7 linked regions of the Homo sapiens genome follow. The protein of the gene in region 1 interacts with the protein of each later gene in a pairwise test. Each region holds a gene or a part of one and is shown in the gene's direction. Other genes may lie near its edges.

Region 1 (4,431 bases):
ACCAGGTTAAATAGCACTTGAGGTGAGACTTTTAAAAGAAGAGTAAGATTTTTAAGGTGTAAGATTTTAAAGTGTAAATAGAAGTAGGGTGGAGGTTGGGGCTGAGGAATGTAACAACTTTGGAAAGGAAAGGAATTATGTGGCTGGAGCTTGGTCAGGGAGAGCAGTGTGAAATAGGAGATAAGAGGCTGGTAGGTAATGTTAAAGACAATTACTTTTATGTTAAGAGCAATAAACCACTGAAACTTTTCATAGTGTCACTCTGCCAACAGTGTTAGAAAATTATTTGGAAGGCGTCAAGAATGAAGGACTGGGGGAAAAAATTCTGCCAGGTGAGAGATGATGGAATATAGTAAGTGAGTTAAGGGCCTCTTTTTTTTTTTTGAGACAGTCTCATTCTGTCACCCAGGCTGGAGTGCAGTGGTGCAGCCTCTACCTACCTCCCTGGCTCAAGCAATCCTCCTATCTCAGTCTCGAGTAGCTGGACTACACGCACACACCACCATGCTCAGCTAATTTTGTTTCCTTATGTAGAGGCAAGGTTTCACTATGTTGTTGCTCAGGCTGGTATCCAGTTACTGGACTCAAGCAATCCTCTTGCCTAGGCCTCCTATAGCACTCAGACTACAGGCGTGAGCCTACCTAAGCGCTTTTTCCCCTCAAGGCAGAGCTGTTTTCTTCTACTCTTGTTTGTATCTGTCTTTTCATGTGCTTTCAAACTGGCTTCCTCCCTTTTTTTCCATCATTGTTTCCCAGTCTTGTAAATGAAACTGAGTATTAAGATGATACCCAGAGGAGAATCCACACTGCCAGTGGAGTCCAGTAACTGCGTTGGTGCCTTAGAAGTGAGTTATCTTGAGGCAGGTAGTGTATGTGTGGTTTGGACACTAGAGGAATGACTGACCAGCTCCTCTGTTCCCCAGTGGACCTCCACAGAGAAGTCGAGGGAAGAGGATCAGCAGGCTTCTAATCAACCAAATTCAATTGCTTTGCCAGGAACATCAGCAAAGAGAACCAAAGAAAAAATGTCTATCAAAGGCAGTAAAGGTAAGAGGTCTTCAAATTCTCAAATCCCACCTTCTCGGGTCTTAGAAGCCAGAGGAATTTTTCTGAAGAAGAAAAACCAGGGAAGAAATTTCCATCATGTATTGTGCAAATCCTGCACTTCATGGAAGCCAAGCTTAAACTGTTACCTTCCTGAAGCATCTTTTGGTCACCACTGCTCTAACTGATCCCTTCCTATCTTCAGACTTCCACAGCATATTTGGTTCTGCTGATCATTTTTTCCTTCACTTGCTACTTGGAGTTAAGGATTTCAGTGTGCAATGATTTGGGAACAGACAGCTGTAAATTTGAAGATCCATTCTTGAAACCGGACTTCCTATTCTAAAAATAAGTTAGGACAATATCTACCTTTATTAAGCGGTGGGAATGGAGTGTTAAAATTTACATAGAGTAGTTAAGTGAAGCACTTAGACTATGCCTGAGAAGTAATATGTACAGAGTAAACCCTACTATTAGTGTCATTACAGGCTGGTTTTTTTTTTTTTTTTTTTTTTTTTTTTTTGAGACACCAAGACAGGGTGTTGCTCTGTCATCCAGGCTGGAGTGTGGTGGCACCATCTCAGCTCCCTGCAACCTGTGCCTCCCGAGTTCAAGCAATTCTCCTGTCTCAGCCTCCCAAGTTAGCTAGGATTGCAGGCGTGTGCCACCATGCCTGGCTGATTTTTGTATTTTTAGTAGAGACAGGGTTTCACCATATTGGCCAGGCTGATTGCAAACTCTTGGCCTCAAGTGATCGTCTGCCTTGGCCTCCTAAAGTGCTGGGGTTACAGGTGTGAGGCACCATGCCCAGCCTTAGAAATTTTTATGGCACGATCCCGGCCCACTACAACCTCTGCCTCCCGGGTTCAAACAGTTCTCCTGCCTCAGCCTCCCAAGTAGCTGGGATTACAGGCATGTGCCACCACGCCCAGCTAATTTTTTAAGTAGAGACGGCGTTTCACCATGTTGACCATGCTGATCTCCAACTCCTGACCTCAGGTTATCCACCCACCTCGGCCTCCCAAAGTGCTGGGATTACAGTGTGAGCCACTGCGCCCAGCCAGAAATCTTTACTGAATGAAGACAAGGTATGTGAGGTGCAGAAGCGGGATGAACAGAAACACAGCAGAGCTAAGGAAACATACCTGCTATGAAACCAGAGTGCTTCCCTGACCTAGGGTGGGCTGGCAGAATTAAGGGTATTAGTGGTTGCCTGTGTAGCATTGTCAGGTGTTGATTTTGCTCTGGGGGTAGAGGACACCACTGAGTATGATCTCAAGTCTAAGACAGCGGTAATTCCCCTGGGATGGAAGTGCAACCTCCGATGCCACCACCTGGATTCTGTGGATTAAGGAGCTCACAAAGGAGCAAGTGTACCTCAGTAGTGGGGCAATTTAGGAATAAAACTGGGTTTTAGAAGTGGTAAATCCTAGGTTTGAGAGGGATTGGACTATTAACTAAAAGTGATTTTAGGCTGGGCGCGGTGGCTTAGGCCTGTAATCTCAGAACTTTGGGAGGCCTAGGTGGGCAGATCACAAGGTCAGGAGTTCGAGACCAGCTTGGCCAACATGGTGAAACCCCATCTCCACTAAAAATACAAAAAATTAGCCGGGCGTGGTGGTGGGCGTCTGTAATCCCAGCTACTCAGGAGGCTGAGGCAGGAGAATCACTTGAACCCACGAGGCGGAGGTTGCAGGGAGCCAAGATCGCGCCACTGCACTCCAGCCGGGCGACAGAGCAAGATTCTGTCTCAAAAAAGAAAAAAAAAGTGATTTTACTTTTGAAATTCAGAAAAGCTACACAAAGATAATTACTACTCATTTGATTCCATTCTGCTTCAGTGCTCTGCCCTAAGAAAAAGGCAGAGCACACTGACAACCCCAGACCTCAGAAGAAGATACCAATCCCTCCATTACCTTCTAAACTGCCACCTGTTAATCTGATTCACCGGGACATTCTGCGGGCCTGGTGCCAACAATTGAAGCTGAGCTCCAAAGGCCAGGTGAGGTCCCAGGCTGGGGACGGTGCTGCTGGGAGGAAGGGTAGGAACCTTATTTGCCTTACTAACTCAGTTTTCTATTGTCTTAGAAATTGGATGCATATAAGCGCCTGTGTGCCTTTGCCTACCCAAATCAAAAGGTAACTTTTTAAAGGATGGACGTTTCAATGCTTATCCTAATTACCTATTGTAGCCTCAAAAGTGAGTAAAGGAACTGTCTTAGCCTCACCTTGTTCCTCCACCCCTAGTTCTAAGAAAGAACAATATTTCCCATCTCTACTTCTCTTTTTTTTCTTTCTTTCTTTCTTTTTTTTTTTTTTTTTTTTTTTTGAGACAGAGTCTTGCACTGTCACCCAGGCTGGAGTGCAGTGGCACCATCTCGGCTCACTGCAACCTTCACTTCCCGGGTTCAAGCAATTCTCCTGCCTCAGCCTCCAGAGTAGCTCGGATTACAGGCGCCTGCCTCAGGTGATCCACCCACTTCGGCCTCCCAAAGTGCTGGGATTACAGGCGTGAACCACTGTGCCTGGCCAGCAATTTTCTTTTTTTCTATTTTTTTCTTTTCATTTCTTTTCTTTTCTTTTCTTTCTTTTTTTTTTTTTTTTTTTTTTTTGAGACAGAGTCTCCCTCTGTCACTTAGGCTGCAGTTCAGGCTGCAACCTCTGCCTCCCTGGTTCAAGTGATGCCCCTGTCTCAGCCCCTGGAGTAGCTGAGATTACAAGCATGAGCCACCATGCCTGGATAATTTTTGTATTTTTAGTAGAGACGGGATTTCACCATGTTGGCCAGGCTGGTCTCGAACTCCTGACCTCAAGTGTTTCACCCACCTTGGCCTCCCAAAGTGCTGGGATTACAGACCTGAGCCACTGGGTGGCCAACTGAGCAATTTTCAAGAAGACAGTACATTGTTATTAACTATGTATAGTTACCAACTTGTACAATAGATCTCTTGAACCTAGTCCTCCTAAGTGAAACTTTGTATTTGATCAAGAGCTCCTTAGGCCATTTTTGTTAGAATTTTAATCTGTATTTTTATCTTTATTATTTAACCCTTTTTGTAGGATTTTCCTAGCACAGCAAAAGAGGCCAAAATCCGGAAATCATTGCAAAAAAAATTAAAGGTGGAAAAGGGGGAAACGTCCCTGCAAAGTTCTGAGACACATCCTCCTGAAGTGGCTCTTCCTCCTGTGGGGGAGCCGCCTGCCCTGGAAAATTCCACTGCTCTCCTTGAGGGAGTTAATACAGTTGTGGTGACAACTTCTGCCCCAGAGGCTTTGCTGGCCTCCTGGGCGAGAATTTCAGCCAGGGCGAGGACACCAGAGGCAGTGGAATCTCCACAAGAGGCCTCTGGTAAGCGCAACATGAAGAGCTTATTCTGGTCCAATGGG
Region 2 (4,431 bases), on another chromosome or scaffold:
AGGGAGAGGTTTAATATTCAGGGGAAGGGAGCTGAAGCTTGCAGAGCAGATTCCATTCTGCCAAGCCTCTTGTGCTGCATACAGAGTCTCAGGGCATCAAGCAACCCGAGGGCTTTCTTCAGAGGAGTAGCTTGAGGCAGCGGCGAGAGAAGGGCAGGACACACTGACAAATGAATAATGAGAATTAGGTGAGGAGATGGAGTTTAAGAACTGCTTCAAACTTTAAGGTGGATACCTGATGGGGCTTTCTAGAGATGAGCAATTCTTCTCAATTTAAGGCCAGATAGGGGAGATGCTAAGTAGGTAAGAAGTCAGTGGATTTTTTGGCCTCCTTTTTTCTCTTTTTGTTCTTTTAATCCTTCGTACCCTTGTCCTGTGTTCTTTTAGGTAATGTTCAGTGAGGTGTAGCCACAAGAGGGGACATAGGAGAGGCTCAAGAAAACAGAGTTTATTATACTCACATGTCTTAGAATGACAATCACTGTACAGGAGGATAGGAGGGGGGACACGTGGGGTGGAGGTGACAGCTCTGAGAGCAGGATCAGCTAAGCAGGTGGGAAACAGGTGGGAGCAGAGAGAGCAAGGACTGTGGGCAAGTGCCTTTACTAGTGATCTCAGTGCAGTTCACAGCTCAGTGCAGTTCACAGTGCGTTGCATTGGTGCATTGGTAGGTCGTGGTCAGAAGAAGACAGAGAGGTGAACTTGTGGTAGGGGCCAACCTTATCAAACTTGTGCACCTGGTTACCTGGGTGGGGTGTTCACAGTTAGCGTATGTGGGAATGAATGTTGAGGCAGCAAGAGGCAGCAGGAGACAACATGTGAAGTTTTGAAACTTTGTAGTACAACCCTTCTCAGTGTTTTTGGTTTAGAATTTATTGTTTCCATAATCACTTAAGGAGCCTAAAAGCTTAAGAATGATGTACATGGTATCCGATGGATAATAAAGACTAAAGAGAGCTATAACTATACTTATTAAAATGCCATGATTGTGAGACCCTGCCAAGTCTTTTGCATTCTACCAACAAAATATTTTCATGCTATACTAAATCATTAGCTGATGACAAATGCTTCAGGAAATAATTTCACTATTTATAAAGGTTTTACATTTAGTACAACTTCTAAATGCCAAATATGATGTTGTAGTTGCTCTACCCTAATCTCCCTCCGCCATCCCCTGGGTCAAATTGTATATAGTAGTAATGAATATGGAGAAGCTGTCTGTAATACTCGTGAAGAACCCACAGCTCCATGGAGGTTTACTTGGATACTTAGGACACTGAAGGACCTCTAGGCAGTGTTTTCTGCCTTTTTTTGAATTATGATATATATAAAAAATAGAAATATCTTTTTTATAATTCAAACTAACCTTTCCCCATAGATACTAATGGAAGCAGTTTTATAATGCTGAGAAACATCTCAATATCAAGCTATGTATTAGTCTGTTCTCATGTTGCTAATAAAGGCATACCCGAGACTGGGTAATTTATAAAGGAAAGAGGTGTAATTGACTCACAGTTCTGCATGGCTAGGGAGGGCTCAGGAAACTTACAGTCATGGCAGAAGGGGGATCAAAAATGTCCTTCACATGACGGCAGCAAGGAGAAGTACAGAGCAAAGTGGGGTAAAAGCCCCTTATAAAACCGTCAGCTCTCGTGAGAATTCACTCACTATCACGAGAACAGTGTGGCGGTAACCACCCCTATGATTCAATTACCTCCCACCAGGTCCCTCCCATGACACATGGGGATTGTGGGAACTACAGTTTAAGATGAGATTTGGGTGGGGACACAGCCAAACCGTATCACAGAATAATGCTTGAAAGAAACATAAAGCAGATAGCCTATGCTTTTAAACGTACAGGAAATCGGCTGGGTGCGGTGGCTCATGCCTGCAATCCCAGCACTTTGGGAGGTCGAGGCAGGCAGATCACTTGAGGAGTTTGAGACCAGCTTGGCCAACATGGCAAAACCTCGTCTCTACTAAAAATGGGAAAATTAGCCAGGCTTGGTGATGCACAGCTGTATTTCTGGCTACTCAGGAGGCTGAGGCAGGAGAATTGCTTGCACCTGGGAGGCGGAGGCTACAGTGAGCCAAGATCACACCGTTGCACTCCAGCCTGGGCGACAGAGCGAGACTGTCTCAAAAACAAAACAAAACAAAACAAAAAGTACAGGAAATAATGTCCACAGTGAATGACTCCAGTGAGGAAAGGAGAGAAGGGGAGTCAGGACAGTTATTGTCCATAACAGTGATGGCATCCTGCAGGGGGCATTGTGAAATCCCCTGCCTGCCAGTAGAGGAAGTTCCTTGGTTTTACAATCTGGCTCTGCAATCTGGGAAGAACTCTTGTTCTTTCTTATATATATTTGGCCAGGTCTAAGGAGGGTTAGAGGAAATCTGCCCTCTTTGGGAACGGCATAACTTTTCAGTCAACTTCCTGTTTATTTAAATTTGGGGATTGTTTTACAGTCATAGGGTTTTCACTATCCATGGTAGATTTGAGTAATGAAATTTCTTCATAAACTTAGTAGGCTTCTGGCCAAGTGCGGTAGCTCATGCCTGTAATCCCCGCACTTTGGGAGGCCGAGGTGGGCGGGTCACCTGAGGCCAGGGGTTCAAGACCAGCCTGGACAACATGGTGAAGCCGCTTCTCTACTAAAACTACAAAAATTAGCCAGGCATGGTGGCCTACGCCTGTAGTCCCAGCTACTCGGGAGGCTGAAGCTTGAACCTGGGAGAGTTGCTTGAACCTGGGAGGCAGAGGTTGCAGTGAGCCAGATTGCACCACTGCACTCCAGCCTGAGCAGTAGAGCAAGTCACTGTCTCAAAAAAACAAAAACCAAAAAAAAAAAACCAGAAAAACTTCAACTTAATAGGCTTCTGATGTGTTTTCTTGTGAGTTTCATTTGCCAATTTCTATGATGGAAATTCTTTTTTAGACCTAATTTTCATCCAGTAGACTTGGTTGTGTTACTCTGAACTTAACAAGAGGGCCTGATACTTTGGCTTAACCAAGAAGTCTTAATGGTACTTTGTTGCTCAAAGTCTTTTTCATTTATATTTCCCGTTATTTGCTTCAGGGACTCAGGATGACCCTGGATCGGTTCTGCCATCTGTAACATATGGTTTTCAAGGTTGCCAAAGGGAAAGAATATGTTTGAACAAGCATGGGAGATGTTCATAAGCCAGGCCTGGAAGAGGAATATGGTAGACAGAATGCTACGATTGTTGGTGACTCTTGCTCTTGTGTACTCTCCTCCCCTTTGAGTGTGGGTGCAATGTTCAATTTGAAAAGATGTTATTCCTGAGACTTTTAACTTTGTAAGACAAAAGGGAGATTATATGATTGGACTTAATCTAATCTCATGAGCCCTTTAAAAGCAGGATATTTTCTCTGGCTGGTAGTGGAAGGAAAAATCAGAGAGATTGGAAGTATGAGCAGGACTGGACATGCTGTTGTTGGTTTAAAGAGGGAGGGGCCATGTGAGTAGTAATGCAGGCAGCCTCTAGGAGCAGAAATCAGCTCTTTGGTGACCATCAGCAGGGAAAATAGGGATCTTAGACCCACAGCCTTGAAGAATCTGAGAGGAAGGGAATTCTTCCCCCAAGCTTCCAGATAAGAGCCCAGTCTAGCCAACGCCTTCATTTTGGCCTTGTGAGGCCCTCAACAGGGAGCTCACTTAAGCAGGCCCAGACTTCTAATTTATAGAATTGTAAGATAATAAATGGGTATTGTTTTAAGCTGCTAAATTTGTGGTAATTTGTTATACAACAGCTGAAAATGAAGAGAAGGAATAGTTCCTTCTGTTTATGTTTGGTTGGCTGGAACTTGTAACATGGCCCCTCTGTGGTACACCTAAGAGAAATGGAAGAAGGCAAGTGTAGCCTAGCTATGTGCCCAGGATGTAAAAGTGGGTTTTTGGTTAAAAAGCTAGCAGTTTTGCTATTACTGGTGCCTATAATTAATTAATTGTGTGTCTGTATATTAATCTATTTGTGAGCTTGTAAGTGTATGTATATGTGCATATGTCCATATGTACATACACAACATACATATGCACATATGAATTTTAAGTCTAGTTTGCTGAATAAGTCTTTTCTTAATACATAAGGCTCAGTATGTTCCATGTGCCTTTTGAAACTGTCGTCCAGGCTGGGGTATAATGGGGCGATCACAGCTCACTACAGCCTCAATCCTCTGAGCCCAAGCAATCCTCCCACCTCAGCCTCCAGAGTAGTGGGACTATAGGCGTGTGCCGCTATGCCTGGCCCATGTGCCTTTTTAATATATTTTTTATTTTATAGATTTTTTTCTACAGTGCTTTGGCTTTTTGATATTTAGATGTTTTTCTCTGATGAGGCACAAGTTTATTTCTGTGGCTCCTGATCAGTTTTTTTTTTAACAGTGGCACCGTTAAGTACTTGCTGAGC
Region 3 (4,431 bases), on another chromosome or scaffold:
TTAAAAGATACTTAAAGACAAATCAATCATATTGTATAGCCCTTATTTGAGTCCCAAATTATGGGGCAGTTGGGAAATTTGAGTATCGACCTAGATATTTGATGATATTAAGGAATTATTGTTGGAAAAAACTTTTAAGCTGTGATAATGGCATTATAATTGCCTTTCAAAAAGTATGTGTCTTTCAGAGATACGTACTGAAATATTTACAAATGAAATAATATGATGTCTAGAATTTATTTTAAAATAATCCAGGAGGGGAGGGACGTCATGGGGGCATATATGAAACAATATTGGTCATTAATAAATGATTTGTGCAGTTGGGAAATGGGTATATATATGGTCATTACATTGTTCTTTCTACTTTTTTGTAAGTTTAAATTTTTCTATAATAACAAGTTACCCCCAAAATGAAGATAATATAAAGAGATCTTTAGAACTTCCTCCCCCATAAAAAAAATTATCTCAAAGCTAAGAGAAATGAAACTGTGGACAAAAAATCATATAGCTAGTCTAAACTAGCGTAATTTGTTTTCTTCTGTTTCATGTCATCTCTTATTTGTTTGGTTGTTGAGACTCTGTCATGAAACGTATTCCATTTGTTGCAGGCAGATGCGTGTTTATTTGTAACTGAGTGGTAAGGGAGACGGACACCCACAGCTAGGGCGTGAGGAAGCTTGATAGTGTGGGTAGGGTTGATGGACATTTTGTAGAACAGGTACTCCCTAGGAGCTAGATAATTTGAAAAGTGAATGAATGCAGTCTGGATTTCATACCACTTAATTTAACTCTTCTTTTACCAGAGCGATACCAATTGGTGGAAAGGCACCTCCAAAGGCAGGACTGGACTAATTCCAAGCAACTATGGTAAGTGTTGCTGAGTGGTTTTACTTTAGCTTCGTTCACTTGGAATTTTTTGGTTCTTGATGCTTTTCTGCTTGCTACTGTGGCTGAGAAAGCAATGGAGTCATTGTCAGTCTAGGACATTTTCTATTCCATGAGCCTTCTGTTAATAAACTGGCCATGAACACCAGATGTGCTTGAGCCTGACTCTGTGGCCTAAGAGAATGCATTTTAGCATTCTTAACCCAAGGTTTCCAAGGAAACACTTATGGTTTTACTTTCTTCAACCCTTAAAACAATTTTTTTTAATGCTGATAAACTCAATCTTGCAGATAGTTTCTTAGACTAGCCGTTTCTTTTGTGATGGAGTAACCCGGCCTTGTTCATTCATGTTTGGGGCAGTGATGTTCATTAAATGCTTATCATGGCAGTTTGGAGACTTTGAGAGATGAGAGACACGGCTCCCGCCATGAAGCTGCTTCAAGCTGGAAGTGGGACAAACAGATAAAACACTTGTTTAGTTGTCAGCAGAATCAAGTCAAAAGAGCACAGAATTGATAAACAAGGCTCCTGAGTTTTAATCCTCTTTCTTCCATTTCCTAATAACACTTCCTACTGATTCTAGGACAGCAGCGAACATGCCTTCTTTAAGAGGCAGGTAGCTATGCTGATTGTTCTTTCTGAATACAGGAAGCAAAATACTCCCCTCATCCGATCCTACATAAATACACACAAGAGAACCAAAATTATTTTCAGGTATCTTTAAAGCAGAGTGATCTACAAAATGTAAAAATGAACATCAAATGCTTCCTTTTGCATTTTTGTGACTTTGTTTATTAAATACTTGAGTAATATCAAGTGTGCATTTAACTCAGGTATGCGGGTTTGTTTGTTTTTGTTTATACTTCCAGTTAATTACTATGTTATTGCCTTATTGCTTGGCTTGGTTTCCCTAAACACATAATTCAGCTTCATTTAATGCAAGAACTATCCATTTGATTTTCTGTTACTTTTTATCCACATTAAGTAAAGGAAACTGTGTTGAATGCCCTGGTACTCCTGAAGCTGGGGGACTGTGGTGAATGAGTGGCTTCAGTAAATCATTTGTGTGGCAATTCCACATTGGGTTAACACTTTTTATTTTCAATCTAGTGGCTGAGCAGGCAGAATCCATTGACAATCCATTGCATGAAGCAGCAAAAAGAGGTAGGTGTGATTCTTTTTGACTGAGGTATGCAGTACAGTAAAAGGCACGGATTTCAATTAGCTTTGACAAGTGCATACACCCACGTAACCAACACCCAGATCAAGATCTAGAACATTTCTGCCATCCTAGAAAGTTCCCTTTGCACCTTCTCAGTTAAATCCCTGCCTTACAGTCTGTCCCAACATCTACTACCCTAGAGAAGTGTGATTTTAGTTTTAAAATGTCAGTCAAGAAACACTGTTGTGGGGAGATGCAAGTCGAAAGACATGGTCTGTGACTTCCAAAGCACAACATCTGGCAGGGGAGAGAGAGATGTAACAGATCATTAAAATATGGTATGATAAGTACAGCAATTGAAATGTGTTTGACAGGCCGTAGAGGCCCAGGTGAGTAACTGGAGGGCAAGAGAATGGAAGGGTCTGGTGGGTACAGCATTTAGGAGAGCGTTGGTGTGGTGAGCATTTGGCCAGGGAGGGCATGACTAACAGGGATGAACCTGGGGAAGATCCTTGACCAAACAACGATCAGCCTTGTCTTGGGCTTTATTCTGTAGATCAGTAGTCCTCAGCTAGGGGTGATTCCTCTTTCACAAACCCCGAGGGTATTTGGCAATATCTGGAGACATGTTGACTGTCATGACTGGAGGGATGTTACTGGCATCTTTTGGGGAGAGGCAGGCGTTGTTGCCACACATCCTACAGCACACAGGAGCACCCCCACAATAAATCCAACCCCAAATGCCAATGGGGCTGCTGCTGAGAAACCCTGCTGTAGATAATGGGGAGTTTTTGTAAAGCCTCAATGAGCTCCATTTCATTCCATTTTTAGATTTTTTTGGAAATCTGAATGTACACAAGGAAATTATTGGTTAGGATTGTGAAAAAGTAAAAGGACTAAACTGACATTTAAAAAATTCTTTGTGAATTAGATACTTGGGACATTAGCCTGAGGATTTTAAATTAATAGTTATAGTTTAGCATATAAGAGCAGCAGCTTTGAGTAGGTTATTTAGCCTTTCTTATAGGAACTGAAGATGCATTTTAAATATGAATATGAATAGTATCTGCTTGTTCTTAGGTTTGATTGTTTTTTCCTCAATTTCCAGAATTTCACAAAGAAAAAAATAATATATACACATACACACACATACACACACACACACACACACACACACACACACACACACACCCCTATATATTTTTTAACAGAATAGAAATACCTTAAGTATACCCATTTGGGCAACTATTCCCATTAACTTATCATTAGAAACATTGATGTTAATACTTTCCATTAATAAGCTGGAAGTCAAAATGTACCATAATAAATGCATTAATGGGGAGGTCTTAATTTAATACTTGCTGATTAATCCATTGCAAATGGAAATTTATGCAGAATGACATTGATTTAAAAGCAAAATAAAAAGTGAAAGCTTTTTTTCTTGTGTTCTTGTAAATGTAAAATTCTTTCAGGCAACTTGAGCTGGTTGAGAGAGTGTTTGGACAACAGAGTGGGTGTTAATGGCTTAGACAAAGCTGGAAGCACTGCCTTATACTGGGCTTGCCACGGGGGCCACAAAGGTATTACATTTTGTTTGTTATATGTTTCTATGCTGCTGAAAATGTGTTTCACCTACGGGAGCCAGATTTACAAAAAATGAGAAAGGAAAAGCATTGGCTATTCTTTTTGAATCCTTTAGAATACCGGCCAAAACCCTTGTTCCTGGAAGCTCTGTAGAACAGTGGGTAGAATGTGGTCAGTCAGCCTCACTGCATGGGTCCCTCTCGCTTGAAAGACTGGACACTTCCTTTCCTCTCTCAGGCTTAGAAAGGTTACTGGAAAACAGCAGTAATATAAAAACAAAACCACTGTCTAATCTTACAGAAGGAAAGATCAGAATTTGCTCCTCTAGCTTAGCTTTTCACAAGGTCTTCTTTTATGATTTGCATTTTAAGTTTAATGCAAACTATTAGATTCAAGAGAAAGCCAACATTTGCCAAAGTTAGTGATTCCATTGATACTTTTTCTGTTGTAATCAATAATAATGACAAATTGAATTTTTAGATGTATTTCTTCCTGGACAAAAATTTATCACCCACCGCTTTTCTACCTCTCTCTATAACAAAAGAAATAAACTCAACAACAATAAGAAATGAAGATCTCAACAAATTAAATAGCAGTGCCAAAGGAAAATTTGTAACTGTCTACTAAAAAGAAGCCTATCTTATTTCAGCTAATAAACATGTTAGTTATATGAATGAAAAGTATTATAGTGAATGTAAAAATATTCCTCTAAGTGTCATATGAAAATGCAAAAGCCAAAACTATTAGAAAAAGTATATTTTCCTAAATAATTCCACTTTTTAGATTCTTAAGTTTTTCTA
Region 4 (4,314 bases), on another chromosome or scaffold:
AACCTCATCTCTACTAAAAAAAAATATTTCATAAATTAGCCAAGCACGCTGGTGCATGTCTGGAATCTCAACTACTTGGGGGACCAAAGCAGGAAGATTGCCTGAGCCCGGGAGGTTGAGGCTGCAGTGAGTGGAGATGGCGCCACTGCACTCCAGCCTGAGTGACAGAGTGAGACCCTGTCTCTAAAAAAAAAGTAAAATAATTTTTTTTTGAGACGGGGTTTCTCTTGTTGCCCAGGCTGGAGTGCAATGGCACGATCTCAGCTCACTGCAACCTCCGCCTCCAGCGTTCAAGCGATTCTCCTGCCTCAGCCTCCACAGTAGCTGGGATTACAGGCCCCCACCACCGCGCCTGGCTAAAAAAAAAGAAAAAAAAAAACCAGAGAGAACTTTCTCTCTCTCTCTAAGGAAATGTCAGGTAGACAGAGCAGGGCCAGGGATCTCAGGGGACCCCAGTTGGGCTCTGTGCAGCCCAAAGGGCGGGGGCTGGGGAGGTCGTGCAGGCCAGGGAGGCTGAGAGGACGTGGGGCCAGTACGGGTGGACGGCCGCTTGGGAGCCGTGAGCTCCTGGTCGGGGGTGGAGGGTGGCCAGAGGGGACAGCGGCACTGGGTCCTCCAATGGGCTTTGGGGGTCCGGCATCCTGGAAAGGACCCAGAACCTTCTCCCCCTCCATCCTGGCAGGTCAGATGCAGGGCATCCCGGACTCCCACAGGGAGGGGTTTCTTGTCCGGGTCATCTGGTCGCCTTGCTGGAGAGGCCTCTGCCTGAGCTGAGAGGAGGCTGGAGCTCACTCCCCGGGCTTCATCTTGTGGCTGCCTCAGCCTCCCTGCCCCTAAAACCACTACGAACCCACTTGAGAGGTGTCCTCGGGAGGATGCCCGCAGAAAGGCCTGCCCGGGTCCCTGCTGGCATAGGCCCTTCCAGCACCTTCCACTAACTAAGCCTCTGTTTCCCTAAGAGCACAGGCGTCCTCCAGCTCTGTCACCTGACTGTCAGAAGTCATGTCTGCTGTTTGTCTTGGGATGGAGCTGCCGGGGACACGGCCCCTCCCACCACAAGTGGCCAAGGGCATGTTGTGGTCGGGAAGCTTCACCGGTCGGCCCCGGCCACCTCACCTCTGCCTGCCACTCGGGGTCCTGGGCCCTGCTGCCCCCCGAGTGCAGCTGCAACGCCCCTTTTGCCTAAAGCAGCAGGCCCTGCCGACAGGGACCTGAGCATCTTTTTCTTCCTTCCTTGGCCTCTGAGGTCCTGAGAGGGAACTCCCCAACTCTCCCGCCCCAGTCAGCGGTCACAGGGGAGTCTCTGGGCCCACAACAGGGCCGGCCTGGTGGCTGAGACCCTGGTGGCTCCTGGCCACGCTCAGGAAGGCCCGTGTGGTCAGGGCTGCATTTGAACCGGCCCCGCACTGGGGATCTGCCGAGGGCTGGGTGCTGATGTCCCCACCGCGCCCCCCGTCGATGTCTCTTGCCAGGCGCGACTCTTCGATGAACCGCAGCTGGCCAGCCTGTGCCTGGAGAACATCGACAAAAACACTGCAGACGCCATCACCGCGGAGGGCTTCACCGACATTGACCTGGGTAAGGGCCCAGGAGCCCAGGTGTGGGAATCCCAGCGGGGCCTCGGCGGGAGGGTCCGGGGATTGACAGTGGGAGCTTTGGGCCTGGGGGAGTTGCACAGGTGAGCTGGGGCCTCACCACTTGCAGCAGGTCAGGAGTTTGGGTCCTAGCACAGCCCCACGGGAGTCCGGGGCCTTGGCCAGGAGGCCACAGGCCAGAGCCCACCATCCCAGCTGATGGTGACCATCTCGTCCTCCGATGGTCCATGGCTTTGACTTTGCTGTTGAACAGCTTTTGTCAAAGCTACTCAAGTCTGTCCTTGTGGCTTAAAAACAACCACAGCCGAGGAAAATGAAGGGGCGTGGTCTTGTGTTGATAAAGCTTTATTTATAAACACACTCACAGGGCCAGATTTGGGCCACGGGCCATAGTTGCCAGCCCGGCTTTAACTGCTGGTCCTCACGTTAGTCTCACTGCCTCCTGCAGGGTGGGCATGTGGGTGTCGTGTTCACGCAGCCCCTTCCTCCACCCCACAGACACGCTGGTGGCTGTCCTGGAGCGCGACACACTGGGCATCCGTGAGGTGCGGCTGTTCAATGCCGTTGTCCGCTGGTCCGAGGCCGAGTGTCAGCGGCAGCAGCTGCAGGTGACGCCAGAGAACAGGCGGAAGGTTCTGGGCAAGGCCCTGGGCCTCATTCGCTTCCCGCTCATGACCATCGAGGAGTTCGCTGCAGGTAACAGAGCTCGGGCTCAGGGGCTGGTTTGGGAGGGGAGTGGCACACAGGTGGGCATCTGGGTACCGAGGATAGTGCCCCCGAGTTCACTGCGGAAAGCCTGGCAGATGCCTGGCATATACAGATAGGAAGAAACCTGGCTTGTGAGGACGCGTCCACAGGGCCATCTGTTAGCCCCGGCCCGGCTCTGTCCCCACCGTGCACACTGCCAGACCCCGCCTCTCGTGTCTGTCCAGCTGTTTTGGTGGCATCTTCCCAGGAGGGAAGGGAGTCCCCGTCTCGCGCCCTTGTGCTACCTGCTGGTGCAGGTACCAGTGTCTGTGACGAGCTCAGGAGGGCTCTGACATGGCCGGGGTGGCTGTCATGCGCCCGAGTGGGCCTTGGGGTCCCCTGCTGCAGGGCCTGGGTTCCAGGGTGACGTGAAGGGGCAGCGCTAACGATGCCTCCTGCCCTCGTGGCTGCTCACTGCCTGACGCCATCCAGCTCTGGAGCAAAACAGGCCTGGAACTTTCCAGAAGGGGCTGGGACAGAGCCCTGGGGCTGGTGCACACTCGCCGTCTGGCCTTCCCCAGGTCCACGCGGCCCCCGCTCTTGCTTAGCTGAAGGTCGCCAGATTTAGCAAGAGGGTCTCTGTCGCCCAGGCTGAGTGCGGTGGTACAATCACAGCTCACTGCAGCCTCGACCTCCTGGGCTCAAGTGATCCTCCTGCTTCAGACTCCGGAGTAGCTGGGATCACAGGTGCCACCACCACACAAGGCTTATATTTGTATTTTTTTGTGGGGACAGGGTCTTGCTATGTCACCTGGGCTGGTCATGAACTGGGCTCCAGCCATCCTCCCATCTCGGCCTCACAAAGTGCTGGGATTATGGACATGGGCCACCGAGCCTGGCTAGATACATACTTCTTAAAAATACAACTGTTGATCAGCTGGGTGTGGTGGCTCATGCCTGTAATCCCAGCTACCCGGGAGGCTGAGGCAGGAGAATCACTTGAACCCAGGAGGTGGAGGTTGTGATGAGCCGAGATCGCGCCACTGCACTCCAGCCTGGGCAACAAGAGTGAAACTCCATTTAAAATAAAAAAATATATACAATTGTTGGCCAGGCTGGGTCACTCACTCCTGTAATCCCAGCACTTTGGGAGGCCCAAGATGGGGGGAATCACTTGAGGTCAGGAGTTTGAGACCAGCCTGACCAACAGGGTGAAACCCCGTCTCTACTAAAAATACAAGATTAGCTGGGCATGGTGGCGCATGCCTGTAAACCCAGCTATGCTGGAGGCTGAGGCAGGAGAATTGCTTGAACCCTGGAGACGGATGTTGCGGTGAGCCGAGATTACGCCACTGCACTCTAGCCTGGGGGACAAGAGCGAAACTCCGTCCTGCACTCTAGCCTGGGGGACAAGAGCGAAACTCCGTCTCAAAAAAAAAAAAAATTGTTAACATTGTTTATTGAGTTTTGATACTCAGTCTTCCTGATTCACTTAACCCATAATGGTCTGTTTCTCACCAGTTATTAAACTGTGTCTGCACTGGGCTGGCTTGCAGCTGAGCGATGCGGAGTTGAGCCCACCTTGGTTGATGAGTGATTAGGTCTCAGGCAGGCAGGGCTGCTCTCATTAGAGCAGAGGGTGCTGTGTCCTGGCACTCCTGGGGGTGGATGGTGGACCCCCAATTCTGCCCCTCCTGGCCTCCCCTCCCTACCCAGAGCCCCTTCACATCCCATGCACAGTCCCTCTGCCTGTGACATCTCTGCACCGGGATTAAGAGCCTGGCTCTTGGAGTCTGCCTGGGGTCCGCTAGCCATCACCCCTGGGGGTGTAAGCGCTTGAGAAGGTGTCTGCCTAGGGCCCACCGTGGAGAGGAACCCCCAGACTGCTTCTAGAAGCCAGGGCTGCAGCCTGGGGGGTACAGGCCTAGCAGGGAGCCACAGTGACCCCTCCCAGCCAATGGCCCTGAGAGAACAGGCAGTGGAGCCCCCCGCCCCCACCCACAGTGAAGTGACGGGTGGTCCCTACAGTGGG
Region 5 (4,431 bases), on another chromosome or scaffold:
CACTAATATCTCTGAGACACTTAAAATATTGTCCTGGCACATGGTAAACACTAACACCTGAGAGTTATTATTTCGTCCCTGTAGCTGAGTAGGGCTGAGGAATTGTAGGATTGGACCGCCTCTACCTTAATAAAATGTGCTCAGCATTTCTGCATATGCAAGTAACCCTTTGCAGCAGCAGGGACTTCAGCCAAAAAATATATATATATATATATAATATGTATGTGTGTGTGTATAAATGTATGTGTGTGTGTCTATATATATATATAGAGACAAAATAAGTGGAGTTGGGGGAGGGGCACCGCAAATAATGTTCCTGCTGTTAAAATAAGAGGGACTGAACCATATTAATGCCAAGGGGGAAGTTCAGTTTATTTCAGGGGGGACGTGGTTTTCCTACCTCCTACTGTGTTACTGATACAGTACTTACTGACCAGCCGTCTTAAACTCTTGTGGTAGGGTCTCTCTCTCTCTCTCTCTCTTTCTCTTTTTCCTAATGGTGTGGAACAGAGCTTGAATAATAAATATTTAACAGGGACACTCCCTTTTCTCTGTTAAAATAATCTTTGTTTCAATACTTTAACAAGGAAGACTGTGTTTTCCCACCTCTGCTCTCACGTTTCGTTGAAGCCAGGTCTCAGGAGTAAGAGAAAATCAACACAAGGCCACTTGGGGAGGGCAGTGCTGGCTGAAGCCGTCTCACTGGACAGCCCAGGGTCAGGGGTTTCAGCCGCCTGTTCAAGGACACCGAGATCCACAGCAGCCACCTGGGAGCTCCTACACAACTATGCCCAGCGATTCCAGGTGCCAGCTACTGAATGTGAGAGAGCAAGGAGGTGGAGGTGGATGAGGAACTGCCAGCTGCAGGACCACAGGGGCAAGGGGAAGGGGTTGTCAACAGGGATGGGACGCTGGGTAGGATCAGTCTTTTCTTACGAGACGTTTTCAGCTGAGGTGCTGGCTTCTGATGGTGGGAAACCAAGCATTCAGGTCCCTTGGAGAGGCTTATATCTAACAGTTGGAAAGCCTCCATTGAGGAAATCCAGCCCATTCTGCCTGGACTTTGGGGCTCCATCCATGGTGACTTTTGTGTCAAGGGAAAATTCACACACTGTCCCTCAGGCGGGCAGCAACTTAATTTCTCTTTAGCTGAACTGAACTTGCTTGCAAGCCTCTATGTAGACCAATGGCGGAAACAACTTAATCTTTTTTCCATTTCTGTTGTTGACCAAAAAAAAAAAAAAGCTTTAAAATCTTTTTTCCATTTCTTCTAATGGTGGAAAAAAGCATAATCTTGCCATTTCAAGGTAGCTCAGTCTCTTCCAATAGAAAGCATAGACTATCCGTTTATGACTTAGGCGATTCCAGATTTAAACACAGTCAATTCAGAGTAGAAATTCCCTATCAGGGCTGTTGGTTTTTCTTGAAGGTTCTCTCCTCCCCCTGGTCCAGTCCTAAGATGTTGCCTAGATGTGAGGGGGGTTTACAGAACATCATGGTGGCAGGTAGGGAGGCTCACTTCCACAGCTGAGGTGACTCGTCACAGGAGGCCTGGGGCCTGGGCCAGGATCTGTGCTGACATCTGTGGCTTAGGCCTCCCTCTCTGGGTTGCTGAATCTCTGTATTTGGAGCCGTGTGTCACTGCCCCCAGGCAGCCTCTGGCCTCAGTGGCCCCTCAGCACTTCCTGCTGGGGACTTGAGGGAATTTGTTCACAGTTCACAGGGAGCGACCAGCCTTCAGGCCCCATCTGTACTTAGTGACACCACATGGTTTCCACTGGGCTCCAGCCCCCGTGTTAGTCCAGAGAACTTTGACAGCTGCCTTCTCCCGGGATTTCTGTGGAAAGTGGAGTCTAAGACCCCCTTCCCCAGGGTGGCATCCAAGGAGCATTTCAATTTTCTTGCTCACCCTCTTCTCACTGCAGGCCCCTTCCCTGCTTCCCTGCCTCCAGAAAGAGCTTGTATCTCTTCTCTGGATGGCAGGAAACAGCTCCTCCCTCTCCATGGCTTGTAATCAAAATGCTAGGCTCTGAGTTCTTCAAGCTCTAGTTCTTGGAACCCAGAAGTTTCTCTCTCTCTCTCGCTCTTAAATCTTATAAAAGCCTACCTGGCTCTAGCATGAAAGCCTAAAAGCCTTGGCTTTCACAATGTTTCACAACTGAAATGGTATTATTTGGGAATTTAAAAGCTAAACATTGACTGCTTTGTTCATGTCTGGGTTCCACCCTCCTCCTCAAGTAAGGGAGGCAAGCCCCAGCTCCTTGGGTTGAGGGCCCCAGGCAACAGAAATGACCCAGAATGAAAAATGCATTGATACTTCAGAATATCGTCCGGCTGCATGTATAATTCAGGGCAGCCAGTCTGAGCTCTGGTTGGGGTGGATTTACCAACTGCCTACTTAGCAAGTGCCAATTGCTCTTAGTGTTGTAGCCAGCCCAGTGGTGGCTGGAGGGCCAGGTGCACTTGTACTGCCTGAGTCAGGGAGTTCTTGAACAGGGTCTTTCTACTCAGTGGTCTCTGGAGAGATGCCCTGCCTTGGGTTTAGGTGCTGATGGAGTGTGATATGAGTGCTGGTCTCTTTCCAGCTCTCAGAATATCAAAGTGGGCAATGTGGCAGTGGTTCCTTGCCAAGAATGAATGACATGAGAAGTGAGTAATGCAGCTTTTCCATGATTTGTTCTGTGTGTGTGTGCAGCAAGAACCCAGGTTTACACATGGAGGTGGTGGCCTGGTTTACACATGGAGGTGGTGCATACACTTGGACAAATGTATGCTTGCCACTAAGCATTTTGGTCATTGCAGGTGGCTTATAGAGTAAATGGGAGGGAAATATATAAATCTATCTATCTATCTATCTATCTATCTATCTATCTATCTATCTATCTATCTATCATTAGCCCTGTAATCAGTGTGTCAGCCTATGAAATGTCTTGGCAACCCTTAGTGGTGTCATAGATCATGTACGAGGTGACATGGAGCAAGGTAGCTGATGGCCTAGGGTCTGGAGCCCTCCTGTTTCTGGCTCAGCCAGTAGCCCTGGGGCCAGGCCATTATGACCTCTCAGAGGCATTGATGGCTTCTCTTGGAAAAGGAGAGGACTCATGGAGGACTGCCAAATTCCATTCTAGCATTAACATTCTGTGTTCAAGGAAATGCTTCCCGAGACTACCATGTGGTTTGGCACCTGACCCCTTCTCTGTTAAAAACTAGTCTAGTAGTGGGAGAAATGCTAAAAGAATAATAATTATTTTTATAATCCACATTAAAACAGTTATACATTAATAAAGTAGACTTTGACTCACAGCTCAGGTTGCCCTTGGTTTTCAGTGCTCAGCCCCCACCTGCCCACCCATATACACACTCCATGACCCAAGGAAAATGAAAAGTTCTGTATTGTAAGCCCTCTATTCCCCATGCTTTGTTTGAAATCATTGAATGTTGTTCTGTTCAAATTCAAAATAGTGAACTAATCCCCAATATTTACAGCCTTCCACCCCCTAGCTTTCATCATTATGACAAGAGGAATACACAGACTTAGGCAGGGGTGGGGTCTGTCACGGAAGGAGCTGTCTAGAGGCTAGAAACATCATGTAGATCATAGAGGTTATATTGCAGGTGGGTTCAGAGTTTCAAAGTCACGACCCAGTACAGGAGCTGCCTCCCTGAAGAGGAAGAAGAGCTCCCCTACCATTACCCCCTTCTCTTTCCTCGCCAGCTGAGTCTCTTTAACCTTTAACGCTTCCTTAGGGGAAGGAGAGGGGAGGATCATTTCACTGGTGGTTGTCAACCTACCCTGGACATAGGAAGGACCTGAGAAACAAAAAATACTGATGCCGGGTTCACCCTGGGCAGTGGGCTGTTTAGTGTGCCACCAAGTTGAGAACCACTGCCATAGGAAGGCAACAGGAAGCCACCTTGGTACAACCTGGGGAGCTCCGCTGATGAAGGCTCCTTAGAGTGCCCTGTTCCTTAGAGATATAGGCGCTACTCCATGAATTTCAAGCTGTCTAAACAACTATAATATAATCCTTCTCACAACAGGAATCTCCATTGCCCCAACTCTTGTCTTCCTCCTCCCATAATGCTGTCACCTCTCTACCCCTCCCCAGGACAAAGGGGCATCTCATTTGGCCAGCCACAGAAATACCCCAACGTACCTATTCTCTTTACTTGGACCTAGAAGACTTAGTGGAGAAAGAACATAATCTCTAGCAGAACTTGTTCAATTCTCACTTGAAGTCTAGAGGGAGGAAAAAGTCTTATAACAGAAAAAGGAAATAAAAATGGAAATCATCAAATAGGATGGCAAAAGTCACTTATTAAGAAAAAAAAAAACTCCTAAGATTAATCTTATTAATACTCAAAGAAAAAAAGTATGAACTAGTCAAAATTGAAGTGAGATTTTTGTGAGAGAAATGTGTCATATTAATA
Region 6 (4,431 bases), on another chromosome or scaffold:
GTCCTTCAAGTCATTCTTATAATAATGCCTGAGGCAGTGGGTGAAAACAGTGGAGCTTGGATATTTAGGAAGGAATTAATTTAAAAATACAGTGTGGGGAGCTCTGCAACACCCTGTGTAATCCCAAATACTTTAGCAATTTGAGGTCAATAGAAATTCACTAATTGAACAATGAATGTTGAGCATCTAATATATTTTTGATGCTTGTGATACAGTGATTAATTAAAGATAAACAAAGCCCTGGTGATGCTTACATTGCCGTGGGGGAGACAGAAGCAACCAAGAGAATGCTAGGTAGGGACACGTGTTATCAGGAAAATAATGTCAGTGGACTGATCGGGGGTAACACCCACAACCAAGGTGATGCTTATGTGAGCATCACAAAGGAGGGATTTTCTCTTTCATTTGCTGGCAAATTCCAATGGGTCCTACAAGGTTTGGTATTAGGAATGAACAAATTTAACTGGATAAGAAGATATCCCTGAATTACAAGAGGAAAGATGCAATTACATACCAGAAAGAGCTTGTTGACCCTTAGAACACTAACTATAGATGTGTCCTGCCCCAAGTAAATCTAATATGAAGTCTGATTTTACAAACCTCTGTAAATTAGGGAATATCTATTTGATGTATTAGAATCCTCTGTTGAAAAAACAAAGGATTCCTTTAAACAATGAAAGCACTAATGCATTTTTGGGTACATGGAAAGAGGCAGCCTAGAGACCCTGTGGAGAGCCCTTAGTGTTTGGCTGGGGAGGTGCCAGGGCCACCCTCCTGCCCTCCCCATCCTGGCCATGTCACCACCCCAGACCCTGACCCTGTGTGGGTAGATTCCTTTAAACAACAAAGCACTAATGCATTTTTAAATCACCTTTGATATAAAAAGTATGTTTTACAAAATACTTCTCAAGAGCACGCGTGTGGCATGAACTGAGCGTAGGTTCGTTAAGAGGGATTCCTCAAGGGTGGTGCACAGCTTTTAGACTTGTACTGCCCACGACAACGATGCTGCCTAGAGGTGATAAACTGACTTGTGGCTTTTCAGTCTTCCTTGTCCTAGGAATTGTAGATTCAAAGGGAAAACAAAACCTGGCTTCTATCTCCAGAGGGGAAAAATAACAGTTGAAAGGTGTAACTATAAATAAGTAACTTCACTCATTCTTAGTCCTGGTTGTTTGCACCTTAAAAATAGCTCTCCCACATCTGAGCCAGTGTGAGGCAGAAGGGGAGGCCAGAGCAGGAAATGCTTGGCTGGGAGGTGGTGGGCTCTAAACTTTCATCACAGTTGACTTTGGCAGGAAGGTAGCGTGTTTTCCTTTTTAGACCCAACCTTTTCAGCTCCAAGTCAGAGAAGCCTAAGCCTTCAGACTTCTTCCCCTTGTATCTGCTGGGACTGCCCTGCAGGCTTTCCCCATGGCTCCCCGTCCTTCCAGAGGGCAGAGATACGGACTCATCTTCCCTTGGATTGATGTCAAAGGGCTGGGGTGCTGGGGTGACCCTCGGGCACTCACATTCCATGTTTTGTTTTGCTTTTTTTAAGTCTACACTCAGTAGAACATTTTCTGTTTAGCAAAAGGTAGATGAGTCCTGCAGGAGGAAATCAACTTCTGAAAATGACCTGTGCCAGCCCTTCCAGGAGTTGCAGCCAGGGCTGAAGAGTAGGCCGTGCCTAAAGCATCACACAGTCAGGGTCTGGGGTAGTGACATGGCCAGGATGGGGAGGGCAAGAGGGTGGCCCTGGCACCTTCCCTGCCAAATACCAAGGGCTTCTCCACAGTATCCTGATCCTGGGTCTCTAGGCTGCCTCTCTCCATGTACCCCAGAGCAGTGGTTCACATCCATGGGAGTGTGGTTGCCTCTTCCTTTCTTTTCACTCCCTTCCTCACTTCTCTTTTCTATCTCTCTCTCTCTCTCTCTCTCTCTCCCCCCATCCCTCCCTCCTTCCCTCTCCCTCCCTTCCTCCCTTCCTTCCTTTCTTTCATAGTGGAGATGGCTTAGCTGCTAGGAGGTGATTTTAGCCTTCCAGGCAATTGCAACTGCTTTAAAAAACATCTGTCAACATCTTCCTGGGTATAGGATATTCTCAGTGGGTGGGAATCATTCTAATGACTTAAGCCTAGGCCCTAAGAGATAATCCCAGCACACTGGGGATCAGGCGTGGCTTTTTCATTTTTCTGAGTTTGCATTTTAGTAGTTTTACTGACTGGCTTAATAAAGCAATTTGCTCATTTTCTCTTTAAATTTTTCATCTGTAAGATAATATGAGCCCAGAACTAGATATGCCTGGTAGTTTAAGCTATGGTCTTTAAAAGCTCTTGAATAAGAAAATAAGGAGGCAGTGGAATCTTATTCTGAGCCACCGGGGTGGGGTTTAAAAATGTTAATGGGCATAGAATCACCCAGAGAGGTAGGGCAGTGAGTTTAAATGCAGATTCCCAGGTCTTTCCCTCAGAGAAATTAATCCAGTAGGTCTGGTTGGGGGCCCAGGAATCTGCATCTTATTGAGCTCCTTGCATAGTTTTGTGGGTGGTGGCCTAGGACTAGACTTTGAGAAACACTGTAAAGGGACCATGAAGGGGCTGGGACATGCTCCAATCTGATTATGATTTGGGACTTTCCATAGTTCAAAATTCCCTTGATATTGCTACAGACTGTGGGCTTCCGAAGTTTTACCCAGCACTGCTTTTTTCTACTAATGAATCACTTAAGGAAAAAAAAAAGACAGTGAATTCTGCCTTCTATCACTTCAACTTTGCTCTCTTGGAAACTCCAACCTCTACCCACCCTCTTGCATCCCCTCCACACTAACTGACATTCATCACATATTAAATCAGCATTTAGAGAAAGAAATATAGTCATAAAATCCCCACCCTTTTAGGAAACAAGCAGACAGTGTGAGAATTGTGGAGAGAGTAAGGCCTTCAGGGTTCAGCTGATGCTGGGTTGTTTCTCCATAGCTGTATATCCTTTGGTAAGTTACTGACCATCTCTACGCCTTGGTTTCTTCATCTGTTTAATGGGAATGATACTAACTACTTCATAGGCTGTCGTGAGAATTAAACAGAAGCATACATAGAAAGTCCCTGGCTCAGTGCTTAGCATGGCAGGGGCTTAAAAGAATGCATTCCTCTCACCTTGCGTTTCCTTTCTCAGAGTTTATTTCCTACTACATCAGCCCTGTTGTGTTTCTTACGACACACCGAAGGTACAAGTGCTTTCTTGCTAACACATATGCTGTGTTTTTTGAGTGTGTGGCTTTCTCTTTGGTTCTGCAAGAATTCTGCAAAGGGTGGAAAAAAACTCTCCAAGTTATCTGAAAACCATATACGCTGACACCTTTACTTAATTTCATTGGTCTTTTTCACTCTGTGTTTTGTGCACAGGGCCGTTTTATCCATTAGGCGTTGTAGGCAATATGCCCAGTGCCTATAAGAATGTTTGGGAGCTGAATAAAAGATCTTTTGACTCCAAAATATGAAACACAAAAACTGCAAAATAGAAATTAATAAACATTTAGGTCAATGTCTAGGAAACCATATCATGTCTGCCCCATTAATTGTTTTATTTAGGGCTTATAACTATTTCATCATATTAGAAAACAGTATGTAGGTTATATTTTTCTCACTTTGCAAAGATTTCTAAATATGCATCATGGTTGCCAAGAACCCACAGGCAATCCTAAATTAAATAAGTTACTCATAGTCGAATAATTTGAAAAACTGAATTATAAAGGAAGAAAAAAAGTTTTCAATTTTTAACAGCAAAAATTCTACTTAATATGGGATTATGGTTTGGGGTAAATGAAATCTACAAATGTTCAAAACCAAAAGCCTAAAAAGATCTAAAATAGTCTCATTTCTCTGCTTCAAAGATCAGTGAAATTGCTACCTGAGTTCATCCATTTCACAGTTGATCTGCATGGGAAATTATATGTGCTTCTCTGATTTTTCTTTGGATGTGTCGCTTTTATTCTAACTGCTGGAACTATTTGTTGTACCTCTTTCTGAAGATCAGTTTGGGGCTAAATTACAAGCTCCATCAGCACAGGGGCCATGGCTGCCTCCTGACTGCTGTAGGCTGAGCACTTGGTAGAGCATCAGCCCACAGATAGCAGCCCAGTGAACCAATGAACAGGTGGAAGCAAGAATCAAAGTGTTAAATGAGAGTTAACCTTTAATTAACTGAAAGGTGGTTCTGATCTTATCACACATCCACCCTCACACGCTGCTGCTCGAATCCCATGGTTCAGCTCATTACCATCTGGTATGAGAGGTGTCAGATTATATACAGTCATTTCCCTCGCTGAAGGACCTTCCAGAATGTCACTGCCTGTGTCCTGTAAGGGTAACTATTCATATACAATCAATGAGCACCTTGATGCAAAGCATGAGTGATGTAAAGAAGGGCTTATCTGAGAGTTTAACTTCTGTG
Region 7 (4,431 bases), on another chromosome or scaffold:
ATGTCATGATTCTTATTCATTAGTCTAAGACCAGGAAACTATTTCAGCTAAATCACTAATTCACCTAATGTCAACAGTTAAGATTCTATTTATGTTTTTCATTATTCAATGTAAGTAGAAAAACATTAATTGAGCACCTTCTACCTGGAAGTTGTTCTCAGTACTGAGACATGAAGACAAAGACTGATGAGACAGGATCCTTGTGCTCAAAAATTGGTACTCATAATACACGAATGGCACTAACACAAGGCAGAATGAGATAAATATTATAACAGAGGTACAAAGTTATTTAACAACACAAAGGAAGGAGAGATAAATTTTTATTAGAAGCTCATGGGGCCTAGCACGGTGGCTCATGCCTGTAATCCCAGCACTTTGGGAGGCCGAGGCAGGTGGATCACCTGAGGTCAGGAGTTTGAGACCAGCCTAGCCAACGTGGTGAAACCCCATCTCTACTAAGAATACAAATATTAGCTGGGCATGGTGGCTGGTGCCTGTAATCCCAGCTACTCGGGAGACTGAGGCAGGAGAACTGCTTGAACCCAGGAGGCGGAGGTTGCAGTGAGCCGAGACCACGTCATTGCACTCTAGCCTGGGCAACAGAGAGAGATACTGTCTCAAAATAAAAATTAACAAAAAAGTTCATGGAAGAGGTGATAATGGAACTGCTATTTGAAGAACAAGTAGAAACTGTTACAGGCAGAGACTACGCAGTGCGTCTTCATAATTTTCTCCCTGTAAGTAAAGTGTGCTTCCATAATTTGTAAACTCATTTTGAGTTTATATGTTTCATTTTAGGGAGGTGAGGAGTGAAGCTATATTTCTAACATGTGTGTTAACATCTCTAAAGGCAACACATGTATGCAACTCTTGTAGGTGCAACTATGTCACATGGAGTATTTTCATCTTCATAGCTATAAGTACACTATACTTGTTTTGTTTTGGTTTTTTTGTAATAAAAATCCAGGAACAGAGATACATTTTTTTGTAAGTGGAATTACGATAAACTGAAAAATATTTATATACTCTGCTTTTAGAAGTGGTTGAATTACCACTTCAACAAGCATAATATTGTAAGTTAATATATTTGAAGTGTGACTAGTGGTATGTTGATAGGTATACATCATCCACAAAATGTTAGAAGTATGTATATGGAAAAAAACACAGCTTATCTTGATGTAAATTTGTCTGTGTATCAGAAGTAAAATTAAATTCCACTTTTAAAAATCTGCTTGTGTACCTGACTCATTAAGAGATTAAGTATTCACTCTAATTGAATTAAAAAATACTTGAAAATGAAAATTCTCTCTCTTACAGCCCCTTATCCACCTCAAAATATTTCCGTTCGTATCGTAAACTTGAACAAAAACAACTGGGAAGAACAGAGTGGCAATTTCCCAGAAGAATCCTTCATGAGATCACAAGATACAATAGGAAAAGAAAAACTCTTCCATTTTACAGAAGAAACCCCTGAAATTCCCTCGGGCAACATTTCTTCCGGTTGGCCTGATTTTAATAGCAGTGACTATGAAACTACGTCTCAGCCATATTGGTGGGACAGTGCATCTGCAGCTCCTGAAAGTGAAGATGAATTTGTCAGCGTACTTCCCATGGAATACGAAAATAACAGTACACTCAGTGAGACAGAGAAGTCAACATCAGGCTCTTTCTCCTTTTTCCCTGTGCAAATGATATTGACCTGGTTACCACCCAAACCACCCACTGCTTTTGATGGGTTCCATATCCATATTGAACGAGAAGGTAAAGCAGTAGGAAATCAGAGGAAATAAGAACTGATACAAAGGAAGGGGAATTGAAATGTTTTTAAATTTGAGTTTAGAAAGACTGATCATAGACAGTTATTAGTCAAAGAATAATGGTAATGAAAGGGGAGAATTTAATTGAGTATCCAATGCAGACTGAGAGCAGAAAACCCAAATGAATAGACTGGATAAGAATCAGAAGGTTTGGGTGATTCACAAGTTGTAAGTACTGCCAACTGTATACATTTGACTGCCCACTATTTCTCATGTCTCAGAACAATGAGGAAAACATCATATTTGGAAATATTTTGAATTAAAGATCTAACTATCCCAGAATGTTACAACATAACCTAGAGAAATTTTCTGTTTTCTCATATGCAAATTTTTAAACATGGCAGCAAAGTAATACTTATGAAAACATTACTACTTCCTCAAGAATATGAGGCATGTGTCCTGCTAACCAGCCGCTCTTGTTCCCTTTAGGGTGCGCCCCTCTAGAAAAAGCACCACAGTTTTCCAAAGAGAAGCTGATAGTAAAATGGAAAATACACAGCTGCTGACATTTCCATATAGCTACTATATTATATTTTGCATTGACTAACTCAGCATCTGAGGTTCATTCTTTATATTTTAGCCACTAACTTAGGAAAGTAGAGCCATGACTTTCAACAAGTTTGGGTCATGATACCTATCTCAATTGTTGTTTGGTAGATTTTTATGGTTATTTGTTGTTTGTTTAGTTTTTACAGTAATATACTTCATTTTCCATTTTCTGATCTAGTAGTTTGAGTGGCAGAGGTTATAATTTGTAAAAATTTGAAGTTACAGTGATAGCCTTATTTTTAGGGTGAGAGTTTAAGGCCCATGTAGTCTCATATACTGACATATTGTTTACTCCTATTTTACTTAATAGCATGAGATACAAAATCTGTGGATTCTTCTATACAAGATGATACAGCATTCAACCATACCCAAATATTACATAAAATGAAAATTCTTAATTATTTGAGTCAAAAGTCATTTTCCTGGAATTTCCTATTTTTTTTAAAGTTTCCTTAATCTATCATTTATTTTTCTGTTCCTAAATATGTTCCTACGGCAAATAGGATCTTGTCATTACAAAAATTTTTTACTGCCTCTTCTCATGAAGGTTCTATTATGCATTTATCTGACTCAGTGTCTTCTTTTGAAGGCTGTTGTAGTCACCAACTGATGATAATGACTTCAAATGAAGTAATAAGCAGCAGAGGATGGATGGACTGTGAAGCAATGTGAAATAATTCTTTCTTTAAGAAGATCTGAAAGCAAATGGATAAAGGAAAAATATTACCATGATTATTATTTTTTTAATTTTACTTTAAGTTCAGGGGTACATCAGAAAATATACCTTAAAAATTAGATGTATTTTAAATAAATGTTAAAGCACTTCTGGATGGTTAATACTACCACAAAGAACTTACAAGATATTTGATCCTGGTTATTTTTTAGCCCTTACCTCGTGATGAGAAAGCCAACAATTGTTAACTTTTCCTGATTATCTACTTCTATTTTGTACACATAATTTTGTTGGGTAGGAGTACATAAAGATACACAGTGTAGACCCATCCCTAGTTTTATTGATTTGAATGCCGTATTTGAGTTTTGTTATTTGGAAGACTGTAAAAATACTGAACTCTTATTTATTATTCTTTAATGGTACCTTTAGTTTAGAGGTGTAATTGAACTTGACAAAAGGAGGGAACATTTAAAACACCTAATTTTTTTTCATTAATCGACTTGTCTATACCCAGGGCCTTTCCAGGTGTCTATTCATGTATCTTCTCTTTTTTATATATGATTTAGAGAACTTTACTGAATATTTGATGGTGGATGAAGAAGCACATGAATTTGTTGCAGAACTGAAGGAACCTGGGAAATATAAGTTATCTGTGACAACCTTTAGTTCCTCAGGATCTTGTGAAACTCGAAAAAGTCAGTCAGCAAAATCACTCAGCTTTTATATCAGTAAGTAACAAAGAGATCATTTTACACTTACTGGGGAGCTAGAACAATGGAACTGGTGGGATTAATGATGCTCAGATGTCAATTATTCACAAACCTTAGGGATGATGAGAAGTCTTCAAGATCAGGAGAGGCTGAGATCCACAAGCTTTGGATAGCAGAGGAAATGAATGCTTGTTTAATAGTAGCAATCCTATCCAGGGGTTTAACTTGAGGATTTTTTTTTTACTATTGTGATAATTGAACATTTATTAAACTGACCTTTCACATTAGCCATAACAAAGCCTCCAAGGATGTGGACATACAGTTTGGGAAATACGACATTTGTTTGAGCCCATAACGAAATGATATTATAGGACTGTGAAAAATCTCATTAGAGTATTGAGCTTGTGAGGCTCAAAAGAAAGACAAAGATTCAAGTGTGGGTACACCCCGATGGTCTCAATAAAACTGGTGGGAAAAGTCATAGCTAGAGCAACCTGAAAGTCCCAGTGTCAAGTCCTAGGGTGGCCTCTACCATTCCATAAGGGTAACAGGACAGCAAAAGCTAGCCTCTGAAGGTTGCACAAACAGTGCCTGCCTCTATAACGTGTTTAGCTAAACTGACTATGTTTACTGGAAGTATAGAGGTCAAAAATCAGTAACCTACCCTATCAGGAGTTATATG

What was found.
Region 2: the proteins of DPPA4 (region 1) and SH3GL2 interact in a two-hybrid assay, tested with the Homo sapiens proteins (one large-scale study listed by BioGRID and IntAct).
Region 3: the proteins of DPPA4 (region 1) and OSTF1 interact in a two-hybrid assay, tested with the Homo sapiens proteins (one large-scale study listed by BioGRID).
Region 4: the proteins of DPPA4 (region 1) and BTBD2 interact in a two-hybrid assay, tested with the Homo sapiens proteins (one large-scale study listed by BioGRID and IntAct).
Region 5: the proteins of DPPA4 (region 1) and SH3GL3 interact in a two-hybrid assay, tested with the Homo sapiens proteins (one large-scale study listed by BioGRID and IntAct).
Region 6: the proteins of DPPA4 (region 1) and NEDD9 interact in binary tests that used the Homo sapiens proteins (3 or more experiments, as listed by UniProt).
Region 7: the proteins of DPPA4 (region 1) and PTPRO interact in a two-hybrid assay, tested with the Homo sapiens proteins (one large-scale study listed by BioGRID and IntAct).

The regions. Positions count from the first base shown.
Region 1 is NC_000003.12:109,330,486-109,334,916, reverse strand, and holds part of DPPA4 (developmental pluripotency-associated protein 4), read left to right. Parts: intron 1-923; coding exon 924-1,047; intron 1,048-2,885; coding exon 2,886-3,046; intron 3,047-3,132; coding exon 3,133-3,183; intron 3,184-4,104; coding exon 4,105-4,393; intron 4,394-4,431. UniProt on the Homo sapiens protein: May be involved in the maintenance of active epigenetic status of target genes. May inhibit differentiation of embryonic cells into a primitive ectoderm lineage.
Region 2 is NC_000009.12:17,585,059-17,589,489, forward strand, and holds part of SH3GL2 (endophilin-A1), read left to right. Parts: intron 1-4,431. UniProt on the Homo sapiens protein: Implicated in synaptic vesicle endocytosis. May recruit other proteins to membranes with high curvature. Required for BDNF-dependent dendrite outgrowth.
Region 3 is NC_000009.12:75,129,775-75,134,205, forward strand, and holds part of OSTF1 (osteoclast-stimulating factor 1), read left to right. Parts: intron 1-803; coding exon 804-867; intron 868-1,995; coding exon 1,996-2,049; intron 2,050-3,519; coding exon 3,520-3,627; intron 3,628-4,431.
Region 4 is NC_000019.10:1,987,981-1,992,294, reverse strand, and holds part of BTBD2 (BTB/POZ domain-containing protein 2), read left to right. Parts: intron 1-238; coding exon of another isoform or gene 239-418; intron 419-1,472; coding exon 1,473-1,578; intron 1,579-1,924; exon of another isoform or gene 1,925-2,093; coding exon 2,094-2,291; exon of another isoform or gene 2,292-3,337; intron 3,338-3,800; exon of another isoform or gene 3,801-4,314.
Region 5 is NC_000015.10:83,610,784-83,615,214, forward strand, and holds part of SH3GL3 (endophilin-A3), read left to right. Parts: intron 1-630; exon of another isoform or gene 631-634; coding exon of another isoform or gene 635-804; intron 805-4,431. UniProt on the Homo sapiens protein: Implicated in endocytosis. May recruit other proteins to membranes with high curvature.
Region 6 is NC_000006.12:11,208,260-11,212,690, reverse strand, and holds part of NEDD9 (enhancer of filamentation 1), read left to right. Parts: intron 1-4,431. UniProt on the Homo sapiens protein: Scaffolding protein which plays a central coordinating role for tyrosine-kinase-based signaling related to cell adhesion. As a focal adhesion protein, plays a role in embryonic fibroblast migration.
Region 7 is NC_000012.12:15,500,303-15,504,733, forward strand, and holds part of PTPRO (receptor-type tyrosine-protein phosphatase O isoform a precursor), read left to right. Parts: intron 1-1,317; coding exon 1,318-1,761; intron 1,762-3,605; coding exon 3,606-3,767; intron 3,768-4,431.